Homo sapiens: one gene and its partners. The protein of the gene in region 1 interacts with the protein of each later gene in a biochemical or structural test. Each region holds a gene or a part of one and is shown in the gene's direction. Other genes may lie near its edges.

Region 1 (3,750 bases):
AGACAGCCACAGTGGTTGCCAGCCACTGGGGCGAGTGTTGCGAGGGGTGTGTGCCTGCCCATCGGCTGAATCCTGGGCCTGTGGCCTGATCAGCAAGACAGCTGTGGTTCCTGCCTTCTGGAAGTTTAGGAGTCAATGTGAATACATTTTTAGAAAATAAATGAACAGCAGAAATGATTTAAACACGGGAGGTGACTAATCGTGCCTGGGGCAATCTGGAAAGGCTTCTGGGAGGACTCAGCATTTCCCTGGCCCTCTTCAACCCACAACAACCCCATAAAAAGCGGGTGCTACCATTGTCCTTGTATTCCAGCTAAGGAACCCACAGCTCAGAGAGGTGAGGTGAGTTGCCCCAGGTCACACAGCTTCTAAGGGACAGAGCTGGGGATTGACCTGGTTTGATGTGACTCCCAGGGCACAGCAGGGCAGGGCAGGGCCTGTCCTGTCTACCCAGACTTAGATCTGCTGCCTGTGCCTCAGTTATCTGGGGTCTTTCCTTCTCTTGGTGACTACTTGACCCAAACCCTGAGATGCTCAGTCTTTTGAATTTTAGCATTCCAAGATCCTGCCCGCTCTGACCACCAGTTTCAGGATTCTCAGTGCAAGGTTCCTAGCGGCGTGGAGCCCCACGAGGATCTTTCCTGAGCAGCTCAGGGCGGCCACACGGCGGGTTCTCTGGAGCTGGAGTCTGGGCCCCCTGCAGCCTGCTCCTCCACACAGCCTAGATGGGGCCCATATGGGGTCTAGATGGGGCCTGGGCCAGAAGCAGCCTGGTTTTAGGGCGAAAGAGGCAAACGAGCAGTCTCTGACCTACTCTGTTAGGCAAGTGTTGAGACAAATAGGACGTGGTCACTGGAGACGCCTCTGTCGGAGCCCTGCCCTGGCCCCACTTCTGTGGGACTGTTTTTTGGCCTTCCAGGAAGAGGAGAGGTGGAAGGTGGGGCCTGGGAGTGATCCCGCCGCTCCGGGCCTTGCTTGCTAATCAGTGTGATGGCACCGTTAGAGCCAGTGAACACAGGGGTGAGGAGGAATGAGGTCACCAGATAGTGAGAGGATGAAATCATCCCTCCGTGGGAGGGGCTTCCACATATGTCATTTTTATTGTTGTATAATACATTTACTGTAGCAAATATTAAGGAGGTATTATGCTACCTGCCATACACGGTGAGAAAACTCAGCTCCTCCCCCTTCTACCTGTGTGGCCTCAGCTGAGACAAGATCTCTCAGAGCCTCGGGTTTTCTTTTCTTTCATTAAAAAAAATATGTTTTTTTCTTAGAGACAGGGTCTTACTCTGTCACCCAGGCTGGAGTGCAGTGGTGCGATCATAGCTCACTGCAGCCTTGACCTGGGCTCAAGCCATCCTCTGGCCTCAGCCTCCCGAGTAGCTGGGACTACAGGCATCACCAGCATACCTGGCTAATTTTTAATTTTTTTGTAGATATGGGTCTCAGTATGTTGCCCAGGCTGGTCTTGAACCCCTGCCTTCAAGTCATCCTCCTGCCTTGGCCTCCCAAAGTGCTAGGAGTACAAGCTCGAGGCACCGTGCCTGGCTGAGCCTCAGATTTTCTTTCTGTTAGATGGGCTGATGCCTGCTCAGCTGTGGCCTGGCTCCAGGCTGCTGTGTCTTAAAGCCAGTGGGATGGCAGGGACCAGGCTGGGGTGACCAACAACCCCCCACCCCCAGTTTGCCTGGGAGTGAGGGGTTTCTGGGGTTGAGGGACTTTCAGCACTGACACCAGGAACATGTAGGATAAGGTGGTTGCTTTAGACGGGCCCAGGAAAGGAGGTCTGGGCTTTCCGAATGTACCAGGTCTTATCATAACAGGTACGGAGGTCTCTGCTTTCTCAAAGCCCAAACACCCACAGGGGAGGTAGAGAGGCCGCCATCTCCATACCCTCTGAGTCTGAGACCTCCATTTCCTCTGCTCATCTGCCTGCAGCGCCGAAGAGAGTCCTCCAGATAAAGTACCCCCGGCTGGAAGCCAGCGTCTGGGAACTTCCATACACTCATTCAATTCTCATGATGATTTTTTTTAAGCAATATTGCCGGTTTTACAATGAGGAAACTGAGGCTTAGAGAGGGTGAAGCAACCTGCCCGAGTTTACACAGCCGCTAAGTGGGGGCAAATGTGGGATTCAGGCCCCAGCCTCTCCTCCACCCCAGCTGTCTCTGGGTGCAGGAGGCTGTGGGGATGGCTGTAGGGGAAGGGTGGGCAACAGTGACAGCCTACCTGAAGAACTGGGCCCCAGCACCCTCCGTGTTTCTGTGTTATTCTCCCAGCCTCCGGCCTGCTGCAAGTCCGGCCCTGACTCACCAAGATGCCTCCCCCAACCCGGGAACCAGGGAGACCAGGCCTTGCAACTTTGCCCCCACCTTCTCTGCTTCCAGGAAGTGGCTGAGGGCTTTGCCTTCCAGGAACAGAGAACTGCCCAAGTGGGGGTTGGTAGCTGTGAGTGTGCTCATAAGTATGAAATATGTCTCTAGGCTAATGGCTTCTTCCTAAAGTCCCTGCCTCCAGGAAAGTGGGGCCAAGGTTGGGCCGTAGATTCTTCCCCCAGATAAGAACTCTACCCCAAAGAAATTCTGCTGCCCTGAAGGCAAATTGGGAGGCAAAAGTGTGTGTGTGTGTGTGTGTGTGTGTGTGTGTGTGTGTGTGTGTGTTACATTTATTAAGCACCTACTGTAAGCTTGGAACTTTTGTTTTCTTGTTTTGTTTTGAGACAGGGTCTCACTCTGTCGCCCAGGCTGGAGTGCAGTGGTACAATCTCGGCTCACTGCAGTCTCAACCTTCCAGGCTTAAGCGATCCTCCCACATTAGCCTCCCCAGTAGCTGAGACGATAGGTGTGCATCATCATGCCTGGCTAATTTTTCTATTTAAAATTTTTTTATTTTATTTTTGAGGCAGGGTCTTGCTTTGTCACCCAGGCTGGGGTGCAGTGGCATGATCACAGCTCACTGCAGCCTCAATCTCTCCAGGCTCAAGCAATTCTCCCATCTCCGCCTCCTGAGTAGCTGGGACTACAGGGGCACACCACCACTCCTGGCTAATTTTTTGTATTTTGTAGAGACGAGAGACAGGGCTTCACCATGTTGCCCAGGCTGGTCTGGAACTCCTGAGCTCAAGCAATCCACCTGCCTTGGCCTCCCAAAGTCCTCGGATTACAGGAGTGAGCCACCGTGACTGGCCTAATTTTTCTATTTGTGTCGAGATGGGGATCTCACTATGTTGCCCGGGCTGGTCTTGAACTCATGGGCTCAAGTGATCTGCCTGCCTTGGCTTCCCAAAGTCCTGGGATTACAGGCATGAGCCACCATGCCCACCAGCCTGGAACTTTTGAATCTATCCCCTTGTTGCACTGTCTCAACAGCCCTGTGAGATGGGCACTGTTTCTTATCCCAATTTTACAGATGGGAAAACTGAAGCTCAGGGAGGCAAGCATCTGTGTCAAGGTCATACAGCTTGTAAGGGACAGAGCTAGGACTTGAACATCCTTTTTGTCTGACCCCACATCTATGCTTTCAACCCTATGCCCTGCATGGCACCCGGTAAATATGTGGCAGGCCTTTCTGGGGGACATAACTTTCAAGCTCCTCCTTTTTCTTACTCTGCCCTCCCTCTCCCACCCAAGTCCACAAGCCCAGCCTTCTGTCTCCTCAACTAGGTCAGGTGTCTCCTGACGGCCTCATGCCTTCCTGAACCTCACTGGGTTTCAGTCTGATCTTGACCTCTCACCAGCTGTGTGTCTT
Region 2 (3,750 bases), on another chromosome or scaffold:
ACTGTGGGGCCTGACTTTGGATGCATAATAGAAACTTTGTGGATACAGTGTTAGTGTGTGTATGTGTGTCTTTGTGAGTGAGTGTGTGTGTGCATGTGTGTGTGTGTATTTTGAAGGGAGATATTAATTTGTTCATAAGGGAAGGACATCAGCAAAACTGGGTCCTTGTTCCCTGCTTCCATCTCCAGGTATATTTCTATGATTCTTTCTCACCTTACCCTTACCCTCCACTTGCATCCTTCTCCCAAAAAACAAAATAAAAAAGACTGCCTAAGGCCAGCCTGACCTCATTAGGATGTGGCTCAGCTTCACTGCTGCCATCGACAGTGGTGGGTATGCTGGGGTTGAGCTGAGGGCCAGACTATTAACATGCTAATGTCAGGGACTAGAGAACAGAGCTCATCTGTGTTCTCTTGGCAAGCCTCCTTTTCCTGCCCACTGTTCAGCCAGGAGGCTCAGGACAACAGGGGGCACCTCAGCTGCTACACTGAGGTACTTACCCTATTTCTACCCTCATTTCCACCCTAAACCTGTGTAAGAGGAATCATGACTTGGCTCTGATCAGGGTTGGAAAAAATCCTCTCAGAACCCAGGCACAGCATGGCTTCAGAGTCCTTCACAATCCCCGTTTTATCTTCTCAAACATTCTTTATTTGGGGTATTGTAAATGGAACTCAGTCTTAAGGGTGTGGGTATTACCCCCAGTTGCTAAGGATGAAGGACAATATATGGGAGTGGCCCAAGAGAACAAGATACAGGAGTTAATCCAACAATCTCCACCTTCAGCCTTTAATCCATCATGGAAGTGGGAAGTGGTGTGACATTGTAGAGGGAAGGAGGAGGTGGCAGAAATCACTGGATATGCATGGATTTGGAGTCAAACAGACCTGGTTTGAACCCTAATTCTGTCACTCACAACCTGAAACTTGGGCAAGTTATTTCATTTATTTGAACCTCATTTTTGATATCTATAAAATGGGCCTAATTGTAAGTCTAGCATAGGGGTATTATGAAAATTAAAGGAGATGATGGATGTAAGGTTCTTGGTATGTGTCAGTGCTCATAAGTAATAGATCCCTTTCCTGCCTCAGCAGTACTTTGTGCAGAGAGATGCCGACATCAGTTCTTGATTGCTGCTCAAGTATATTTTCTTGCCAGATGCTGAGCACCTTAAACCCTTTAAGGGCAGATATAATATTGACTTCAAACTTTGTGTCCTCTGTGCCTCACACAGAGGAAGTATTCAATCAATGGTTGGTTGTTTTGGTTTTCTCTTCTAGGTGGTGAAAACTATTGGCTTGAGGGAAGTTTGGTTCTTTGGTCTGCAGTACCAGGACACTAAAGGTTTCTCCACCTGGCTGAAACTCAATAAGAAGGTAACTGCTTATTCCTCTGTTGGATTTAGAATTCTTTTCTTTTCCAGAACATTCCTGGGAGGGTACCATGTGCTAGTTGGCAAATCCTGGATACCTAGGGCTGTGTTTGTGACTGGGTGGTCTGTTGACCACTTGGATCAGAATAAGGACCGAGGACACAAGCAAGGCAAAGCTCTTGCTCTGTCTCTACTTTGACTTCTAACAGCGACAATGGCCAGCATTCAAAGAAGAAGAGACTCTTTTCTTTCTAATGGGAACACTAGCTTGAACTTTGACTTGTTTTGGATCAAATCCATTAGTGGCTTTTCAAGAGAGGATTGGTATCCCCTTCATCTCTCCAAACTCAATGGCTTTAGGGGATTTGTGTTTTTTTTGTTTGTTTGTTTTTGTTTTGTTTTGTTTTTGACGGAGTCTCGCACTCTCGCCCAGGCTGGAGTGCAGTGGTGCCATCTCGGCTCACTGCAAGCTCCGCCTCCTGGGTTCACGCCATTCTCCTGCTTCAGCCTCTCGAGTAGCTGGGATTACAGGTGCCTGCCACCACGCCCGGCTAATTTTTTGTATTTTTAGTAGAGACGGGGTTTCACCGTTTTAGCCAGGATGGTCTCGATCTCCTGACCTTGTGATCCGCCCGCCTCGGCCTCCCAAAGTGCTGGGATTACAGGCATGAGCTACTGAGCTTGGCTGGGGATTTGTTAAAAAGAGCCACAGATTCTTGAACTAGAAAAAAAAAAATCTGAAAGATCTTACAGTCTTATGCTGCACCTTCTCCAGCAGTCAACTAATGTCTGAACCCCATATAGATGTTTCCCTCTTTCTTGATCTTTTACCTCAGTTGGACCCCAAATGGGATGGTTTGAGTCCATGCAAGCTCTCCACCCCAAGCAGCATCTTCACGGGAACCTGGCAGCCTTCCATCTTCGTATCCTCAAACTGGCTGGCCTTGTCCTTAGAAGTCTCCATACTGTCCTGCAGTTTGCTTCTCTGATTGTGTCTAGGGAGTAGGTACCCCACCTTCTGCTGGTAGAGTCTTGTTTTCCTAAAGAGTTGAGTCTTTTGCTGGACAAGTGTGGAGCCACTAGTATTCCATTTCAGGCTTTAAAAAATGGTCTAATTTGTGCTCTTGTTTAGCCAGTTCTCAGTCCTCAGACATATATCCTAGTCCTTACTTTGCTAATTTATGAAGTTGGAGGAGACTTATAAGACGAGCTTAAAAGAAGAGCTTATGCCTACTATCAGAATTTGGGGATAGTTGGATATAGTCAGATAAAAGTGGTTTGAAGATTTCTGATCATCAGTCGGTATTAAGGTAATTTCAGGAAGAAATTCCCAACAGAAAGTGATTACAGACATGGGATTCAGTCCCCAGTGAAAGTAATGTATTATTTTTCTTAATTACCAGGGGAGTTGCCACCCAGCTGTCTAAGATTATGCAAATTGATGATCTTTCAGTGTTTTCTCCCCACCCTACAGCCACTCCATTACCCTTAAAACCTATTTTTTGAGAGTCCATAACCCTTACTCTTCCCAGGTGACTGCCCAGGATGTGCGGAAGGAAAGCCCCCTGCTCTTTAAGTTCCGTGCCAAGTTCTACCCTGAGGATGTGTCCGAGGAATTGATTCAGGACATCACTCAGCGCCTGTTCTTTCTGCAAGTGAAAGAGGGCATTCTCAATGATGATATTTACTGCCCGCCTGAGACCGCTGTGCTGCTGGCCTCGTATGCTGTCCAGTCTAAGTATGGCGACTTCAATAAGGAAGTGCATAAGTCTGGCTACCTGGCCGGAGACAAGTTGCTCCCGCAGAGGTGAGGTGGTTCCCTGCCCTCCTTTGCCTTGGCCATAAGGGGCTGCAGCCCACAGCTGACCAATCCCTGCCTCACAGGGATGCCAGATCTGTTCTTCTCCATTGGGGTCTGTCTGAAGACTGTGTTATGCTGCTCAAGAGACATTTGCATATAGTGTCAGACTCTGTTGTTGTTTTTCTGGCTTTCCAAATAAAAAGCCTTTTTGTTTTCCCTCTGTCTACCTGGTTACAGAACTTTATTACCCTGGAGGCAGGTGCTTATATAGAACCAGAGATTGAGTAATTTCTTTCACCCATCCCTGGTTCCATTTTCTCAGTTCTTTTTACTGATTTAGATCTCTTATATCAGAAGTTCACAGGGGAGAGAGAGAAATAAGCAAACCGAGGACATGGGGAGCTCAAATAGTCTTTTAATATTGACAGCTAGTGTACAGAGCTTTCCCCTTTTGTAAACTTCAAAGTCAAAAGCTCTAAAACACTCATTATTTTTGTTTTTGTATCACAATAACACACAAAATGAACAAAGCAGGCAATATCCTTATTTCCTGGCGAAGGAAATAGAGGTGCAGAGG
Region 3 (3,750 bases), on another chromosome or scaffold:
CTTCATTGGAGAAGGTATAAGGATGGCAAATAAGCCCATGAAAAGATGCTCAACATCATTAGTCCTTAGGGAAATGCAACTTAAAACCTTGATGAGAGACCACTGCACATTAATGCAGTGGTACACTGAAAAACACTGACCAAACCAGACACAGTGGCTCACATTGGTAATCTCAGTACTTTGGGAGCCCAAGGCAGGAGGATTGCTTGGGGCCAGGAGTTCAAGACCAGCCTGGGCAACATAGTGGCCATGATGGTCTATCCCTCCAGAAACAAAAAAAATTTATTAGCCAAGCATGGTGACGTAACTGTAGTCTTAGCCACTCAGGAGGCTGAGGTGGGAGGATCATTTGAGCCCAGGAGTTCTAGGTTGCAGTCAGCTATGATGGTACCATTGCACTCCAGCCTGGGTGATAGAGCAAGACCCCATCTTTAAAATAATTATAATAATGACCATATCAAGTGCAGGTAAGAAGGTGGAGCACCTGGAATTCTCATATACTGCTGGTGGGAATACAAAATGGCACAGCCACTGTGGAAAATATTTGGCGTAATCTAGCACAGTTGAAGCTATCTATACTCTGAGACCCAGCAATTTCACCTCAGATAAGTACATGGACTTGGATAAATGTGTAAGAATATCATCAGTGGCATTGATCATGATGGCCACCCTAGGAACAACCCAAGTGTGCATCAAAAGACAAAACAAAAAATGACAAATGGTGATGTATTTAAATAATGAAGCAACAGAAAACCAAACACAGCATGTTCTCACTCATAAGTGGGAGTTGAACAGTGAGAACACATGGACACAGGGAGGGGAACATCACACGCTGGGGCCTGTCAGGGGTGGGGGCCAGGGGGAAGGAGAGCATTAAGACAAATACCTAATGCATGCAGGGCTTAAAACCTAGATGATGGGTTGATAGGTACAGCAAACCACCACGGCACATATATACCTATGTAACAAACCTGCAGGTTCTACACTGGTATCCCAGAACTTAAAGTAAAATAAATAATAATAATAATGTAGCAACACAACAATGGAAATGAAAAAAAGTATCTACACAGAAATGCATCAGTGAATCTTATACCCATAAATGTTGCATGAAAGAAGCAAGGCACTGGAGAATACACACAGTATGCATGGTTCAATTTATATAAGATTCACAGATGAGTAAAATGAAACTGAATTGTTTGGGGATCTCATAGGTGGTAAATTTCTAAGGAAAAGCCAAGAAGTAACCCCCATCTGAATCAGGACTGTGACTGCCTCTAATAGGGAGGAAGGGAATCATGGCTCAAAAAAAAACACATGGCAAACTTCTGGGCGAGCCAGCAAAGTTCTATTTTTTTTTTTTTTGTCTGATTTCTGTTTCTTGCCTTCAAGGCCACAAAGATGGGTGGGCATGAATCACACCACACTGCCCTGGGGTTTCGCTTCCCTGGGACTTTCTGTTGGTGGTGATGGATACAGCTTTGCTCAGAGAAAAGGCACCAGATGGAACTGTAATTCTACCCCACTGCTCTTCTATGTCAGTCACTGGCTCTGTGTCCCACCAGCTCTGTGATCCAAGCCTCGGTTTTCCCATCTGTTCAAGGGGCATGACGGCCCCCATCATGCCTAGCTCATAGAGTAGAATAATGAATGTTAAAGGGCTCTGGGAGCTAATGCCTGAATTCCAGAGATCAACGGGGACTCGAAGGACAGCCAGACCTCTGCAAGGCGGCAGGGAAAGTGAGGCTGAGCTAAATCCCACAGGGCTGGCCCCACACCGCCTTGCCCTTCCCTGCGCTACCCGGAAGAAGAGGTGGGTACAGCTGGCAGGCTGGCAGTTGAGTTCAATATACCATGTTTCACCAGCCAATGGGCTGGGGCGATCAGAAGCAGGTCACACAGCCTGTTTCCTGTTTTCAAACGGGGAACTTAGAAAGTGGCAGCCCCTCGGCTTGTCGCCGGAGCTGAGAACCAAGAGCTCGAAGGGGCCATATGACACTCCTCCCGGACCCCTGGACACACACAGCCCTGGAGACTGGAGGTCAGTATTTGATCCCAAGCTCAGCTGTCCTCTGCCTGCTGTGGCCTGAGTCCCCTTCTCCTGGGGCCCTGCCTGGCACCTGCTGGGGGCAGGGTGGGAGGGGGAAGAGTTAGTGACAGCCACTGTGTCTGGAGCTCTCCTTAGCACACTGAGGCAGAGGAAGGGACAGCTCCTGGACCTTCCATCACCTCCATTCCTTTTGAAATGCTAGGCGCTTGTACAACCCATCTTGGGCCTGGAGAATAAGTCACCACACCTGTGTTTCTCAAAAGAACAGTGTCAGGGAACCCCTGCCTCAGCACAGCCTTAGAGGACTCATGGAAAATGCAGAATCCAGGCCTGTTCAATGGCACCTTCCTATGTTAGCAGCCAGGAAACCTGCTCTTGGACAAGCCCCTGGGATCCCACCCCCACCCCACCAGGGGATTCTTACACACACTGGGTTGGGAGCCCCTGGCTTTGGCAAGGCTTCTCAGGTGAGCGTCCAGTTGTTGGAGGGTACCCACCCTTTCCCCAAGAGAGGCAGCCACACATCCAACATCCTGGGATCTCTGTCTCCCAGCGTGGGCCATGTGCTTTATTTCACCCCCTAGAGGCTCATCCCCCATGAAAAGTCCTCCGCAGGCCCTCAGAAAGATAGTGTGGCCTCTGTGTGCCCAGCAGAAGAAGGACTGGACTTGGCAGTCAGCTCTTGGAGAGGGGGTGGTTAGGACACCTGGGGACAGGAGGAGGAGAATGACTGTCTGTGCACACACGGCTGGAAGGCAGAGGAGGCTGGGAAGCTGCTCTGTCCCCTGGGCCAACTACAGGCCCCCAGGCCAACAGCAACAACACTTTTAGTATTTTGTTATAAAGTCAAGAAATCTTTGCTACAGAGGGTGAGGAGAGGGAAGGAAAGGGCCATGGAACCGTCTATGTGGCTATCCCCAGAGAGCTTTTAGAGTGACAGGATTGCTTTCCCATTTCACAGATGAGGAAACTGAGGCCTGGAGAGGGATGGGAAGCTACCCAAGGCCCCATGGATACACCAGTGCACAACTCTTTCCTTCCCCCTCCTCTTTAAATGGGTGACTCCCAATGAAACCTGTAAGAGACAACCATAAGGGAGCTGACTGTGGCTGCTGAATTTGATTTTATTCTAAGGCCTGGTTTTATAATCAGCTTTCTCAGTCTTTACTGGAGTGTCAAGCCGAGGCATCATTTCTAGGGTCTTACAGGGTCTCTGGGCCAATAGTGCCCTGCTTCTGACCTGGAGCCAGCTGCCTGGTCATGAAAGCAGATCTGCAAAGGCTGGGGCCCCTGAGGCCAAGGCCACTCGCCATCACCCATTTTACAGAAGTGCTGAGCATAGGAGTGCCCTGGGCCCCCAAGAATCCCAGCCACCAAGAATCACGTAAACCATCCACTGTCTCACTTAGGCACCAGTCAGAATGTAGGGAACCCACCCCTAGTCATCCATCATCTTATCAACAGGACGGGGCTTGTAGCCACATTTATCAGGTAGGGAAACTGAAGCCTAGAGATATTAAAGCACTTGCTTAAGGACACACGGTTGGTCAGGATGGAAGGCGATGTCTCCTGACTCCCTGACAGGCACAAGAGACAAGCGAGAGGTGCCCGTGACGGCATGCTCAAGAACGTGCAGCCCTGGGCCAGCCAGGCCCCTGCTCCGTGCCTCTGTTTGCCCATCTGTAAAAGGTGAGGTTGGATCG

The links.
Region 2: the proteins of SELPLG (region 1) and MSN form a complex in vitro, tested with the Homo sapiens proteins (one study listed by BioGRID).
Region 3: the proteins of SELPLG (region 1) and SNX20 interact in a test that uses a peptide from one of them, tested with the Homo sapiens proteins (one study listed by IntAct).

Annotation. Positions count from the first base shown.
Region 1 is NC_000012.12:108,627,232-108,630,981, reverse strand, and holds part of SELPLG (P-selectin glycoprotein ligand 1 isoform 2 precursor), read left to right. Parts: intron 1-2,232; exon of another isoform or gene 2,233-2,336; intron 2,337-3,750. UniProt on the Homo sapiens protein: A SLe(x)-type proteoglycan, which through high affinity, calcium-dependent interactions with E-, P- and L-selectins, mediates rapid rolling of leukocytes over vascular surfaces during the initial steps in inflammation.
Region 2 is NC_000023.11:65,726,534-65,730,283, forward strand, and holds part of MSN (moesin), read left to right. Parts: intron 1-1,280; coding exon 1,281-1,376; intron 1,377-2,904; coding exon 2,905-3,179; intron 3,180-3,750. UniProt on the Homo sapiens protein: Ezrin-radixin-moesin (ERM) family protein that connects the actin cytoskeleton to the plasma membrane and thereby regulates the structure and function of specific domains of the cell cortex.
Region 3 is NC_000016.10:50,679,478-50,683,227, reverse strand, and holds the start of SNX20 (sorting nexin-20), read left to right. Parts: upstream 1-1,915; 5' UTR 1,916-2,038; intron 2,039-3,750.